3 separate regions of the Homo sapiens genome follow, and regions 2 and 3 are each linked to region 1. The links come from fine-mapping of genetic effects on gene expression. A gene starts in region 1. Each other region holds a variant in brackets. All regions are shown on one strand. Distances are from middle to middle.

Region 1 (2,764 bases):
AAATCAGCCCCAGGTGAATGACTAAGCTCCATTTCCCTACCCCACCCTTATTACAATAACCTCGACACCAACTCTAGTCCGTGGGAAGATAAACTAATCGGAGTCGCCCCTCAAATCTTACAGCTGCTCACTCCCCTGCAGGGCAACGCCCAGGGACCAAGTTAGCCCCTTAAGCCTAGGCAAAAGAATCCCGCCCATAATCGAGAAGCGACTCGACATGGAGGCGATGACGAGATCACGCGAGGAGGAAAGGAGGGAGGGCTTCTTCCAGGCCCAGGGCGGTCCTTACAAGACGGGAGGCAGCAGAGAACTCCCATAAAGGTATTGCGGCACTCCCCTCCCCCTGCCCAGAAGGGTGCGGCCTTCTCTCCACCTCCTCCACCGCAGCTCCCTCAGGATTGCAGCTCGCGCCGGTTTTTGGAGAACAAGCGCCTCCCACCCACAAACCAGCCGGACCGACCCCCGCTCCTCCCCCACCCCCACGAGTGCCTGTAGCAGGTCGGGCTTGTCTCGCCCTTCAGGCGGTGGGAACCCGGGGCGGAGCCGCGGCCGCCGCCATCCAGAAGTCTCGGCCGGCAGCCCGCCCCCGCCTCCAGCGCGCGCTTCCTGCCACGTTGCGCAGGGGCGCGGGGCCAGACACTGCGGCGCTCGGCCTCGGGGAGGACCGTACCAACGCCCGCCTCCCCGCCACCCCCGCGCCCCGCGCAGTGGTTTCGCTCATGTGAGACTCGAGCCAGTAGCAAGGGCCCGGTCCCACAGCTTCGACAGCCAATCAGGTGTCGAAGACAAGCAGGCGGCGGGTAAACCGACTCCCCCGAAGGAAGGGGAGGGTGGGAGGACGCCCGCGCCAGAGCCGATTTCACTGACCCTCCCCTCCCGCCGCAGGAGGCCGGCCGCGCCCGCACACCCAGCATCTCTACACCCCACCTACCTACCCGCCCCACCCAGGGGGCAACGCGAGAGTCGCTAAGCGGCTGCGTACTCCCGACGGCGTAACTGACAGGAGCTTTACTCCAACCAGAATACGCCATTTGTGTTTTCACACACGGCGGGAGGAGAAACGGCCAATCGGCGACAAGAGGCTAGCCGGAAGCGCTCCTCCCTCTGCGAGAGCAATGGCTCCGTCCGGTTTCGAGCATTTTCCGCTCCCTTCTCCCTCCCCCTCCGGTTGCCGCAGGGCGGGCCTCCCTCCCGCCTGCATCCAGCCACCCCTTTCCCTCCCAACGTAACAAACATTATGTTCCCGACTTCCCACGGGAAAGGCAACCCCCGCAAGCCACCAGACGGCCCCCCTAGCCACCCATCCCCCCAGTGTACCGCACCTCCCCTCCCACCAGAGTTCCGCTCCCCTACCTAGCCGAGGCTCTCTGAGGAGCCGGAGCGCCGAAGCACAGCCTCTTCTCTAGGCGGCCCCGGCGGCTTCCGCTGATTGGCGGCGAGTGGGCCAATGGGTGCGGGGCGGTGGGCGGAGAGGCCAATGGCGCGGCGGGAGGGGGCGTGTCCCGGGTGCCCCTGGCGCCGGCGCTGGGAATCCCCGTGCGGTCAGTGGCGTTTCCGCTCGGGCAGCGGGCTGAGTGAGCTGCCGCCGCCGCCGCCGCCGCCGCCGCCGCCGCCGCTGCCGGGGGAGGGGCGGCCGCCGCCCGCCTGCGCTCAGAGACTCACGCAGCCCCAGTCCCGCCAGTCCGCCAACACAGTAGTGCCGGCCCCCCTCTTTCCCTGGCCCTGCCCCCCCTCCCCGCCTTTGGCTCGCTCCGCCTTTCTGCCCCCCACCCCCACCTCACGGGTACGGGCCATTCCCGGCCAGGAAACGCCGTGGCGCCGCGTTGGGCCTAACTCGAGTCCTGCCGCCTCCCGGGAGTGCCGTGCGCCGCAGCCCGGGCCCAGGCCCCGGCAGCGCCTGGGACAAGGTAAGGGTCCGACAGAAAAGAGACCGAACCTCACGATCGGGCCCCAGGGGAGGGAAGGGTCACCTCCTCCGTCTCCCCGCGCTCGCTCTCCTTGGGTCGTGGGCCTGGCCCTCCCCAAGCTCTTAGGAGGATGCTGCCACTTCTCACCCCCCTCGCCGCCTTGCACACACCGTTGCAACACCCCATTTTCCCAGGGAGAGAGATCCCCCTCTAATCTAGGCGACCCAACTCCCCCTTTCATGTTTTTCCTGGGTCAGGACGCTTCCCCTCCCCCAACGCCTCTTCACCCCCTTTCCTGGGAACTGCCTACTCCACGTTTACCTTTCCCTTGAGGAGAGGCCTCTTGCTGCCCTCCGCTCGAAATACACAGGCATACTTTTTTTCTCTCCCCGATCCCCCACTCCCTACCCCCGTTCTCGCGGCCTTGTGACAGACAACTCTGATCGCTCTGGGGGCCGCGATCTCCCCTCCGTAATCTTCCTGGACGCCTTCCCTCTCGTTTTCTGGCTTCCCACCTCAGATGGCTGCTTCCCAAAGGCATTACCTTCGCCACCCCCACCACACGTTCTCTGGCTCCCCGTGGCGTGTGCCACAGCGTGTCTGAGATAGCCTCGTTGAATGTGTAGGGTTCGAGCCTGGAGTTGAGCCAGATTGTGTCGTTTTACTTGCCTTGGGCGTGGAGAACGATCTTGTGAGAATATCTTCAAAGGCAGAAAAATATTCCCTTTATGAATTCTCTTTCCCTCTGCGTGTAAGTCGGGAATGTGAAGAGGAGTGTAGGAAAGAGCCCTGGTTCAAGTAGGTAAATCGCATGAGAGGGAAAGTTAAACTGTTGGGAAAGCCCCTTCTATGCTAAT
Region 2 (2,764 bases), 53 kb after region 1:
TAGATAGCCACTCTGCCCATGTGAGTTTATAATGAGTTAGTTGTTCAGCCATAAATACTGATTCATCAAGAGTCTGTGAGACTGTGGTGGAATGAATGTACTGCATTTTTAGTGCTCAGATTTGTGACTGGTCACTGATGTCTCTTCTGAGAACCCTTGAGGTTCCTGAGTGAGAGCACACAGCAGTGGATGACTGGGTAGAGACGGATATGTTTTGTGTGTGCTCTTGTGATATGGGTTAACATGTCCATTTATGATTATTGTGTGAGATTAGGCCCTGGGTCCTCTAGAACACTGTTGCATAAATGAAAAAAATTAAATTGTTTTGAATCAATTCAACCGTTATTATCCACTATCATCACTTGAAGGAAATTAGAGGAAAAATCCTATTGTAATTGGCATAATTCCTGTTCCTTGATCAAATGACAAGTCGGACTGTTTATTCCAAGAGAATACAGAATCTACCCTAAAAGACTCTCTTTCCCTCTCTGTTTCTGCCTCTTTCTCCTCTTTCCAGTTACTTACTGTTTTTGGATCTAGTGGCAGTAGCGTTTGGTGGTGTTTTTGGAATGCTCTTTCTTAATTCCCAGAAGCCCTGCATATTTTCCAAAGGTGTCTCTTAGGAATAGATCACTCCCTCAGATCTATGATGTCGTTTTCCATGTTTCTAGAAGTATAGGACACCCTTTCATTTGGTCTTCCTTTGAGGTAGAGTCTGTTCCCTGGAACACCCTTTTCTCTTATCCTCAGATCTGGATTCAGGCTGCCTTCCTCAGTGTCTGCCATTGCCCTCCTCCACTGGCATCACGTACATGAGGATGCTGCATGTAGATTATTTGATGTGATGAAGTCTCCAACTCCAGGCAGGTCTTCCCTGACTCCTCCAAACTTAAAAGCTTTTCTCTTTCCCCAAAGAACAGAAGTTATTTCTCCGGGGGAGGGGGGCATGAAAGATGAGCCAAAGTGGTGTGGGATATGGAGGGGAGGAGGGCAATAGGAATCTGCAAAAAGGAAGGACACTACTGCTGAATGAGCAGCACATTGCAGAAAGTCTTTTCCTAATTGCACATCTTACCTAAACATTGGAATCACTCATTGGTTTGTTCGGGGAAACGCTCGTAGAATTCCTAAAGAGAAATTTGACCATTTCTAAGGATGTTAACTGTTGAAGCATCTTATCAAGCCAGGTCGTACAATCTCCTATTTTGGTCCTTTAA[G/A]GAGTGTAGGCAATTATTTATTACAGATAAGTAATGAAGTCTGAGCTGCAAATAATATGAACTAGGCTCTTGAATTGAAATTCCTTCTTGATAATTCTAATGCTGGGTTGCAGTCTTTCTGTTTCCATCTTTTCCAACTAGCAGAGACTTAACGAAAACCAAAAACGTGTCTAGGACTGTAACTTCAGATCTGGTAGAAAATGCATTTCTTTAAGCTTTTTTAACTTGGTTCTGCTTTTATACTTGTATCTATAGCACATCCTTAAATTTCTACGGGCAACAGATAGAAATTCCATTTAACACAAGTCCCTGTTATATTCTCCAAGTGTATCTGACTATCCTTAATCTCATTTATACAGGCTCTACTCAAGCACTTTTATCTATGTGTCATGGTTAGTCTTTAGGAAGAGTTTAGGCTGCATACACAGGATTATCATAACAAGACTATTTAAATAGGATCTTTAAAAACTGTTTAAGTCATTGCTTTATTGTGTGCTGTTCACATATCAAGATTCTATTTTTTAAAATACAGCTTTTTATGAGGCAAAATAAAATGAAATGGAATGTTTTAGCTAGAATAGAATTTGGCTTTATAGCAGTGAAGAAGAGTTCTTCTTCTAATATTGGTCTTCTTCTAATATCTCCTAATATTGGTTAGAAAGGACTTACCTAATGCAGAACCTAAGAACATTTTCATTATTCAACAAAATTGTAATAAAATTCTGAAAATCCCTCAGAGTATAAGTTAATCAGATAGATAAGAAAACCCTCCATGGGATTATTTAGAACAATGTATATTTCTAATAGGCTCACTGTTTCATATCTCACTAAAGAGGTAAGGGCCTGGCCTTGTAAGTTAAAAACTTACCAGTATAGGACAAATTAAAGTTGTATCTGTATAGTTGTACTCAGATTCTTATGCTATTTATTTTTATTTTTATCATTATTATTCTGCAACTTCTGAAAAGAAGAGGAGTTCAGGTATTTGACAGAACATTTTATGATATCCCTAGAGTTTCTAAATTGAATCATAGTTTTTAAGAAGCATTTTGCATTTTTTAGTTCCTCAGTTGGTATTTTAAAAACATTTATAAGTGGCCAACAAGGCTCTCAGTAGTGTTTCACCTTGTTCTCTCTAAACTCCTCTTCTAAACACAATGTGTATAGGGCATTTGGTCTCCAGACTTCTTAGAAAAACCAGTCTGACTGATAATGAAACAGTGTGCTTTGCATTGATAATTAATATTTCATTTTATACACTGGAGCATTATCTGTAAATCTCCAAACATAGCATTGAAATTTAGTTGAACCGGGACTCGGTGAAAATCTGCTCAGTGTTCAGTACTGTACTATAAGCTTTCTTCACATACATTATCTCACTTACCATGCATGAAATTGGGATCATTGTCCTAAATTTATATATCCAGAAGCTTTGTCTCAGAAATGTTTGGTAACTTGTCCAAAGTGAAGCAGCTAATAAGTGACACAGCCAGATTTCTTCTGGTGGGGGATAGTAGGGGTTCACAGGGTCTCACTGTTGTCCAGGC
Region 3 (2,764 bases), 87 kb after region 1:
ACTATAGGATACAAGATTGTTGTGCAGAAGTTAATCACATTTCTGTATATTAGCAATGAAAAATGGAATTTGAAATTTAAAACAAAGCCAGGCATGGTAGTGCACACCTGTAGTCCCAGCTACTTGGAAGGCTGAGGTGGGAGGATCACTTGAGCCCAGGAGTTCAAGGCTGCAGTAAGCCATGATCGTACCACTGCACTCCAGCCTGGATGACAGAGCAACACTCTGATACTAAAAAATAAACACAAGACCATTTAAATTAGTGCCCAAAGGCCAGGCGCAGTGGCTCACGCCTATAATCCCAGCACTTCAAGAGGCTGAGGCAGGCAGAGCACCTGAGGTCAGGAGTTCGAGACCAGCCTGGCCAACATGGTGAAACTCCGTCTCTACTAAAAATACAAAAATTAGCCGGGCGTGGTGGAGGACGCCTGTAATCCCAACTACTCAGGAGGCCGAAGCAGGAGAATCACTTGAACCCAGCAGACAGAGATTGCAGTGAGCTGAGATCACGCCACTACACTCCAGCCTGGGCAACAGAGCGAGACTCCGTCTCAAAAATAAATAAATAAATGCATAAATAAATAAATAAATAAATAAATAAATAAAATTAAAATAAATTAGTACCCTAAAATGAAATACTTAGGTGTAATTCCAACAAGATACGTATAAGACCTGCATGACGAAAACTATAAAACTAATGAAAAAAATCAAAGATCTAAATAAATAGAGGTGTTCATGAATAGGAAGACTAGTATTGTGAAGATATCAGTTCTTCTAAACATGATCTATAAATTCAATGCAATCCCAACCCAAATACCAGCTAGTTATTTTGTAGATATCAACAAGCTGATTCTAAAGGGGGTTTGTCTGTTTTGTTTTGTTTTTTAAGGCAGGGTCTTGTGCTGTTATGTAGGCTGGAGTGCAGTGGCATGATCTTAGCTCATTGCAATCCCTACCTCCCAGGTTGAAGTGATTCTCCTGCCTCAGCCTTCTGAGTAGCTGGGATTACAGGTGTGCACCCCTATGCCCGGCTAATTTTTGTAGTTTTAGTAGAGATGGTCTCACCACATTGGCCAGGCTGGTCTCGAACTCCTGACCTCAAGTGATCTGCCTGCCTCAGCCTCCCAAATTGCTGGGATTACAGACATGAGCCACTGTGTCCGGCTAATTCTAAAGTTTTAAACTAACACTACCTCAACACATCATAAAGCTGCAGTAATCAAGACAGTGTGATATCAGCAAAAGATTAGGCAAATAGATTACTGGAACACAATAAAGAGTCCAGAAGTAGACCCACACAAATAGAATCATCTGATCTTTGGCAAAGAAGCAAAAGCAAAACGATAGAGTCCGTAATGGATGGTGCAGGAACAACCAGACATCCACGTGCTATATATATATATGTGTGTGTGTGTGTGTGTGTGTGTGTGTGTGTGTGT[G/A]TATATATATGAATCTATACACATCTTACATCCTTCATAAAAATTAAAATGGAACACAGACCTAAATGTAAAACTATTAAATTCCTAAAATAATGAACATTGGAGAAAATCCAGATAACCTTGGAATTGACTGACTTTTTAGGTACAACACCAAAAGGATGATCCATGAAAAAAGCAATTGGTAAGCTGGACTTCATTAAAGTTAAAACATCGCTCTGCAAAAGACACTGTCAAGAGATTGAGAAGATAAGCCACAGAGTAGGAGAAAAGATTTGTAAAAAACATACCTGATAAAGGACTATTCAATACAAAGAACTCTGAAAACTCAACAAAAGAAAAATAAAAACCCAATTTAAAAATGGGCAAAAGATCTAAACAGACACCTCATATACAAATGACAAGTAATTGTATGAAAAGACTCCCAACATCATAAATCATCCAGTAATTGCAGATTAGTGCTACAATGAGATACCATCATACACCTACTAGAATGGTAAATCTAAAACACTTAATGAAACCAAATGCTGACAAGGATGTGTAACAGGTACTCTTCATTCATTGTTGGTGGGAATGCAAGATGGTACAGTCACTTTGGAATACACTTCAGCAGTTTCTTTAAAAAGTAAACATACAATTTGGCTGTTGCACTCTTGCGTATTTCCCCAGAATTGAAAACAGGTCCACATAAAAACCAGCATGTGAACATTTATCACAGCTTTATTCATAATTGCAAAAACTTGGAAGCAACCAAGATGTCCTTCAGTAGGTGAATGGATAAGTAAATGGTGATACATCCAATGGAATATTATTCAGTGTTAAAAAGAAATGAGCTATCCTATACTATAATGGTGTATAAATCACTTAATATAAACTCTAGTATGAAGGTTAAAAGACAAATATTTAACTATACTACAATAATCTGTTAATGGATATACAGTATAAAAATATGTAAGTCATTACTTTAAAGATATAAATGGGAGAAAGTAAAAGTATACAGTTTTTGTATGGAAGTGATTAGCTTAAAATAGATGACTGTTTTAAGATGTTTTATGTAAGCCTCATGGTAACCACAGGGCAAAAGTCTATACTAGATACACAAAAGATAACGGGTAAGGAATCAAACCATTCCACTGTAAAAATTCATCACTTCACAAAGGAAGACAGCAAAAGGGGAAGAAGGGAACAAAAAATTTACAAAAACAGAAAACACTGAACAAAATGACAATAGTAAGTCCTTGCCTGTCAATAATTCCCTTGAATGTAAATGGACTGAATTCTCCAATCAGAAGACAGAGTGGCTAAATGGATAAAAAACAAATCCCAAC

What was found. PIP is the estimated chance that this variant, and not a neighbour inherited with it, causes the effect.
Region 2: its variant is the best candidate, but not a certain one, in a credible set for the expression of SETD5 in whole blood (TOPMed, PIP 0.62).
Region 3: its variant is the best candidate, but not a certain one, in a credible set for the expression of SETD5 in whole blood (INTERVAL, PIP 0.62).

Annotation. Positions count from the first base shown.
Region 1 is chr3:9,396,071-9,398,834 of GRCh38, forward strand. It overlaps SETD5 (SET domain containing 5), which reads left to right and starts at 1,545. Exons shown (of 23, transcript NM_001080517.3): 1 at 1,545-1,907. It overlaps THUMPD3-AS1 (THUMPD3 antisense RNA 1), which reads right to left and starts at 553. Exons shown (of 4, transcript NR_132781.1): 1 at 490-553. RefSeq lists a silencer at 443-1,752 and an enhancer at 2,363-2,412.
Region 2 is chr3:9,448,730-9,451,493 of GRCh38, forward strand. All of the region lies in intron 16 of SETD5 (SET domain containing 5), which reads left to right. Among named protein-coding and RNA genes, the nearest start is that of SETD5, 52 kb to the left of the region's middle. The variant G/A (reference allele first, on the strand shown) is at 1,218.
Region 3 is chr3:9,483,507-9,486,270 of GRCh38, forward strand. No RefSeq gene overlaps it. Among named protein-coding and RNA genes, the nearest start is that of LHFPL4, 69 kb to the right of the region's middle. The variant G/A (reference allele first, on the strand shown) is at 1,440.